2 linked regions of the Homo sapiens genome follow. The protein of the gene in region 2 purifies or fractionates together with the protein of the main gene of each other region. This does not show direct contact. Each region holds a gene or a part of one and is shown on either strand. Other genes may lie near its edges.

Evidence for each region. Proteins that work in one complex are often made in the same cells at the same time.
Region 1: the proteins of GGNBP2 (region 2) and FBXO45 purify together in Homo sapiens (affinity purification with western blotting, with the first as the bait; one study listed by BioGRID). This does not show direct contact.

What each region holds. Positions count from the first base shown.
Region 1 is NC_000003.12:196,575,160-196,578,659, reverse strand, and holds part of FBXO45 (F-box/SPRY domain-containing protein 1), read right to left. Parts: intron 1,208-3,500; coding exon 851-1,207; intron 1-850. UniProt on the Homo sapiens protein: Component of E3 ubiquitin ligase complex consisting of FBXO45, MYCBP2 and SKP1. Functions in substrate recognition but also plays an important role in assembly of the complex.
Region 2 is NC_000017.11:36,558,419-36,561,918, forward strand, and holds part of GGNBP2 (gametogenetin-binding protein 2), read left to right. Parts: intron 1-2,354; coding exon 2,355-2,453; intron 2,454-3,500. UniProt on the Homo sapiens protein: May be involved in spermatogenesis.

The DNA of each region.
Region 1 (3,500 bases), on a different chromosome or scaffold from region 2:
CAAATCTGTCCTGCAGCCCATAAATAAGGTCTATGGAATACAGCCATGTTCGTTCATTTACGTATTATCGATGACTGCTTTTGTACTATAAATAGAGTTGAAACTCGTGATAGATCCTTACCTTGAAAATGACATTAAAAAAAAAAAGTTGTGACAGAGACCATATGGACTGCAAAGACTTAAAGATTTACTACGTGGCCCTTACAAAAAGTTTGCCAACCCCTGATCTGGAGCAAAAATAGGCTGCTTAAAGTTGTATTAGGAAACAAATATTGAGATAGATCATTTATACATTTATTTAAAAATGGTCAAAAAATCTCCTTGAGGCTGGGCATGGTGGCTCACGCCTGTAATCCCAGCACTTTGGGAGGCCAAGGCAGGTGAATCACGAGGTTAGGAGTTCAAGACCAGCCTGGCCAAGATGGTGAAACCCTGTCTCTACTAAAAATACAAAAATTAGCCAGGCATGGTGGTGGGCGCCTGTAATCCCAACTACTGAGGCTGAGGCAGAGAATTGCTTGAACCTGGGAGGTGCAGGTTGCAGTGAGCCGAGTTGGCGCCACTGCACTCTAGCCTGGGCAACGGAGTGAGATTCTGTCTAAAAAAAAAAAAAGAATATTTTTCTGCATAGCCAAAATCAAAATATAACACCCAACAAAATTAACTATAACCCCCTAACATTAAAAAAAAAAAATCTCCTTGAAGTCTGGGTATCTGAAAAAATAAAAAAATAATAAAAATAAAAATTACCAAAAAGACAAAAACTGCTATATAAAAATTTGTAAATTTAAAACAAATTAAGGCGTGATTTGACAAAGGCCCATACTTGAGAAAAACCCCAGTTTCTCACCTGATATTTTGGTGCGTTGTTGCACTGTGGAAAACTGCCATTGACTTCTCCATTATGTAGTAGATTATTGTCCACCAGATTCCAGCCCCAGCTCTGGTCATCACTGCCCAGCAATGCCACATAACCTTGGCACTGCATGGGGGCCCGTTTTGTGGCAATTCCAATCACTGCCACAGTGCCCAGAGGGCCCTCCCACCACACTTCCCATGCATGGCGGCCCTCACTGAAACCAATCTTGGTCCTTGCACCATCAGTGCTCTGAGCAATGGGGTTTCGATGTAAAGTAAAGCCATTCTTCTTAATGTAGACATTCCTGGAGCAGTCATTAGTGCTGAAGGCATGTTGAAAAGCACGTATCTAAAAAGATGAAAAACAGACCAAATAAATAACAATTTTATTTTTCTTAAATATTAAAAATTACCCAAACTTCACGCTGTATGTTTTTAAATAACGAAGTTATATATTTTAAAATAACACAAGTATTTCCAAATAATGGCTGAAGTTTCAGGATGGAATACTAACAGAATAAATAACATTAAAAAATAAATGCCAACCGTTTCATCACTGACCAAAATTTTAAATTGTAGTATTTCCTCAAACAGACTTCTTAAAACATCAAAAGATACAAAAAAGAAAAATCCTTATATCTTACAGATAATACTGAAACGTTTATGGATAAAATAATGGTATCTGGGAATTGCTTTGAAATATCCAGAGATGGAGTGGGAGAGTGTGCAATAGAAACATGAAACTAGACTGGCCATAAATTAATCATTGGCAAAGCTTGGTGATGGGTATAAGGAAGTTCATCAAACTATTTTCTCTACTTTTGTTTATATTTGATATTTTTATACCAAAAAGTTGAGATGTACAGTTTTCATATGGGCAATGCTGTCATCAAAAAGAATTATATTTTACATAAAACAGAAACTTTAATCCTAGCAGCTCTAAAGTTTATGAAAAATTTTAGTAAACACAAACTACCTTAGATCCTCAGCCTACTTGCTGGATATGACTTACACAATAAAAAAATCACCAATCTCATTTTACCAAATCAAATAATCCCTTAGATAGCATCTAGGTTCAACTACTAGAATTTATGAAGAGAAGCTATCAATAAGACAAGTTAGTTGACTCTTCAGTAAATACAAAGGTTTACACTTCCAAAATAAAGAGGGTATGAAAATAGCTCTTCTATACAAACAATAACAATTTCTCATAAACAATTTTAAACTTTTAGTTTGTGTATTTTAAATTTTTTTTAGACAACGTCTCACTCTGTCACCCAGACTGCAGTGCAGTGGCACAATCGTAGCGCACTGCAGCCTTGAACTCCTTGGCTCAAGTGATACTCCCATCTCAGTCTTCCGAGTAGCTGGGGTTACAGGTTCGAGTCACTACGCCTGCCTGGCTAGTATGTTTTTAAAAAATCCCTTCTCTACTTTAGTCAAACTACCCAAAGCAGTGGAAGGCTGGGACCTATGCTTCAGCTAACCTGAGAAAAATCAACTCCAGAGGCATAGAATGTCAGCATTTAGGAAGACCCTTAAAGGTCACCTAGTCCTTCTCAGGGATTTCAACCGCGAGTTAGTGCAAGAGGCCCAAAGAGAGATCAAGGATCCAGTCCCCTCACCACCTGTTCGTTTACCATTCGCTGGCACTCTACCGTTTCAGTGAGCTGCAGAGCGCAGATTTAAAAACAGAGAACTATTTGTTTCCAGTATCCCATGCATTCACAATAAAACTGAGGCATTCCCAATGTTTTTCCTATCTGCTCGTATTATAAAATACTTTAAGGCACTTATAAGACCAAAACGTAAGATTCAATGAAGGGGCCGGGCGCGGTGGCTCACCCCTGCAATCCCAGCACTTTGGGAAGGCAAGGTGGGCAAATCGCCTGAACTCGGAGTTCAAGACTAGCCTGGGCAACATGGCGAAACCCCAACTCTAGTAAAAATACAAAAAATTAGCTGGGCGTGGCAGTGCACGCTTGTAATCCCAGCTACTTGGGAGGCTGAGGCAGAAGGAATGCTTGAGCCCAGGAGGCAGAGGATGCAGTGAGCCAAAATCACACCACTGCACTCCAGCCTGGGTGACAAAGTGAGACCCTGTCTCAAAAAAAAAAAAAGAAACAAAGAAAAGAAAGGAAAAGAAGATTAAATGGGGAAGGAACATGTCCCCAAAATAGCAAATACTGTCTAAATAACTCAAGAGAATAATATCAATAATTCACTATAAAATATTTAATTAATATTTCCCTATGCCTACTCCCCAATTCTTATAAATTCCAATTTCACATTGACACTATTGACAACCTCTTCCTTAAACTTCCTTTTCTTTTTTTTTTTTTTTGAGACAGAGTCTCACTCTGTCACCCAAGCTGGAGTGCAGTGGCTCAATCTCAGCTCACTGCAACCTCTGCCTCCTGGGTTCAAGCGATTCTCCTGTCTCAGCCTCCCCCGAGTAGCTGGGATTACAGACGTGCACCACCACACCCGGCTAATTTTTGAATTTTGAATAGAGACAGGGTTTCACCATGTTGGCCAGGCTGGTCTCAAACTCCTGACCTCAGGTGATCCGCCTGCCTTGGCCTCCGCAAGTGCTGGGATTACAGGCGTGAGCCACCACGCCCGGCCCTCTCTTCCTCAAA
Region 2 (3,500 bases):
AAAAAAAAAAAAAAAAAAAAGGTAATAAAAGGTCCAGTCATATTTTTATTTTTTCAGACAGAGTTTCACTATTGTTGCCCAGGCTGGAGTGCAATGGCTCGATCTCAGCTCACTGCAACCACTGCCTCCCGGGTTCAAGCGATTCTCCTGCCTCAGCCTCCCAAGTAGCTGGGATTACAGGTGCCCACTACCACGCTTGACTTTTTTTTTATTTTTTAGTAGAGACAGGGTTTCGCTATGTTGGCCATGTTGGTCTTGAACTCCTGACCTCAGGCGATCTGCCCGCCTTGGACTCCCAAAGTGCTCGGATTACAGGCGTGAGCCACCGTGCCTGGCTGAGGTCTTTTTTTTTTTACTCTGAGTGAGGTGACAAGCTTTGGGAAGGTTTTGAGCAGAAGAGTGGCATAGTCTGATGAAATCTGGCTTACTTTGACCTCTGTATTGAGAATGAATGACGGCTTTGGAGGTAGTGAAAAATGGTTATAAAGGATCCTGGATATATTTTGAGGAATGAGCCAGTGGGATTTTTTGGATAGATTGGTTGTGAGGGAGGCCATCAAAGATGATTCTCAGATTTGTGATGTAAAGAATGGACAACAGGCCTTGCGTGGTTGCTCACACCTATAATCCCAGCACTTTGGGAGGTCGGTGAGGGTGGATCACCAGAGGTCAGGAGTCTGAAACCAGCTTGGCCAACATGGTGAAACCCCATTTCTACTAAAAATAAAAAATTAGCCGGGCGTGGTGGCAGGCACCTGTAATCCCAGCTACTCAGGAGGCTGAGACGGGAATCGCTTGAACCCGGGAGGCGGAGGTTGCAGTGAGGCAAGATTGCGCCACTGCAGTCCAGCGTGGGCAACAGAGCGAGACTCTGTCTCAAAAAAAAAAAAAAAAAAAAAAAAAGAATGGGCAAATGGTTACCATTTACCGAGAGGGACGAGACTGAGGAGAAATGTAACAGAGCTCATCTTTGGGTGTGCTAAGTTTGAGATAGCGATTAGACATCCAAATAGAATTCAGAGAGGTCTGGGTTAGAGATGTAAATTTGTCTCATTTAGTGAATATAAATAGGAAAAGAAGAAGAGGTCTGAAAAGTAAACCCGAGGCTTTCCTATTTAGAGATGGTGGTAGGGACTTTTGATATTTACTGTGCCTGGGCTTGAGAAAATAAGCCTTGGAGTGTTTTTGAACAGAGGAATAATGTAATCTGATTCATATTTTAAAAGGATCACTGTAGCTGCTGAGTGAGGCCTGGAATGTAAAGGGCAGAAGGTGCAGCAAGGAGACCATTTAGGAGGCCAGCTATTGCAGTTGACTAAGCTAGAGATTGGTGGGTTGGACAGGGATGATAATGGTAGAGGTGATAAGAAGTGATCTGATTCTAGATTGGTTAATTTTTATTTAGCTTTTATTCTATCTTATTTATTAATTTTTTTGAGACAAAGTCTCACTCTGTCTCAAGCTGGAGTGCAGTGGTGCAATCTTGGCTCATTGCTACCTCCGCCTCCCAGATTCAAGTGATTCTCGTGCCTCAGCCTCCTGAGAAGCTGGGATTACAGGCGTGCACCACCACACCTGTCTAATTTTTGTATTTTTTTTAGCAGAAATAGAGTTTCTCCATGTTGGCCAGGCTGGTCTCTTAACTCCTGGCCTCAGTCTCCCAAAGTGCTGGGATTACAGGTGTGAGCCACCATGCCTGGCCTCATTTTAAAATTTTCTGTAGAGATGAAAATTTTGCTATGTTACCCAGGCTGGCTTTGAACTCCTGGCCTCAAGTGATCCTCTTACCTCAGCCTTCCAAAGTGCTGGGATTATAGGCATGAGCTACTGCACCAGGCCTGATTCTAGATAATATTTAAAAGGTAGAATTGGCAAACTTTGCTCATTGGTTGGATGGAAGGTGCGGATAGTAGTAGTGTGTATTCCATATTTGCATAAAAGTTCTGTTGATGACTCCTCTTCAAGGATGTATTGTGTTTACATAATGTTTTGTGAGGTTTTTATATATTTTTTAAAGACATGGGATCTCACTATGTTGCCCTGGCTGGTCTCAAACCCTTGGGCTTAAGTGATCCTTTCACCTCGGCCTCCCAAATAGCCGGGACTACAGGTGTGTGCTTCTGCAACTGGTGTATTTACATAATGGCTGGGCAAGGGAAGATGGCTGAGAGTCAGGTAGCAGTCAGTGTTGAAATAACGTGAGTGCCAGGCACACTGCTAGATACAGTGGGGATAGAGAAAAGTGGTTTTTTTGTGTTTTGTTTTGAGACTTCTCTCTAAAAGACAGTAAATAGAGATTTTAAAATTTGAAAGTAAAATGAATTAAACCCTTAATATGTTTTATTTTTAATTAGGTCCAAACTAAATGACATGATAGATGCTATTCCAAAAAGTAAGAAGAATAAGAGATGTCAGTTGCACTCCTTAGATACGCACAAGCCAAAACCTTTGGGGTAAGTAGAATTGAATACCAAGAGGCTTTGTCATTGTTAAGATTATATATTTGATCATATTTAGTAAAAGAAATAAACCCACTGTTTGCTTTAATTCATTAATTGGTTATACTCTATGACATAGGTCAAAATAAATAGATCCTCTTGTTATGTTGGCCATTTTGCCTTGATATATATAAAGTCTCAATGTAGATCTGATTTAAAAAAATTTTTTTATGTTAAATATGTTTTAGAGGAGGGAGGTTGAAGTCTTTTTTTTTTTCTTTTTTTGAGACGGAGTCTCCCTTTATTTCCCAGGCTGGAGTGCAGTGGCACAATCTCAGCTCACTGCAACCTCCACCTCCCTGGTTCAAATGATTCTCCTGCCTCAGCTTCCTGAGTAGCTGGGACTACAGGTGCGTGCCACCACACCTGGCTAATTTTTGTATTTTTAGTAGATATGGGGTTTCACCCTATTGGCCAGGCTGGTCTCGGACTCCTGACCTCAGGTGATCGCCCACCTCAGCCTCCAAAGTGCTGGGATTACAGGTGTGAGGCACCACACTCGGCCGGTTGAAGTCTTTATGGAAATGTATGCAGCTAATATGAACGTTTTCAAAGTAGTGGTAATCATTATTTGATCTACAGAATAGTCATAATGTATAAATTATTTATCTTTCTTGTCTCTAGCTGTAATTTACCAAGGTTTTAAAAAAAGTAGTTATGACGATATTATGACAATATGTATTTATGTAACTAATTTGTAGTTTTCTATATTTATTATTATTTTTTGAGATGGAGTCTCCTCTGTCGCCCAGGCTGGAGTGCAGTGGCGTCATCTCGGCTCACTGCAACCTCTGCCTCCTGGGTTCAAGCTGTTCTCCTGCCCCAGCCTCCCGAGTAGTTGGGACTACAGGTGCGTGCCACCAAGCCCGGCTAATTTTTTGTATTTTTGGTAGAGACAGGGTTTCACCGTGTTAGCCAGGATGGTCTCGATCTCCTGACCTCATGATCCGCCCACCTCGGCCTCCCAAAGTGCTGAGATTACAGGCGTGAGCCACCGCGCCC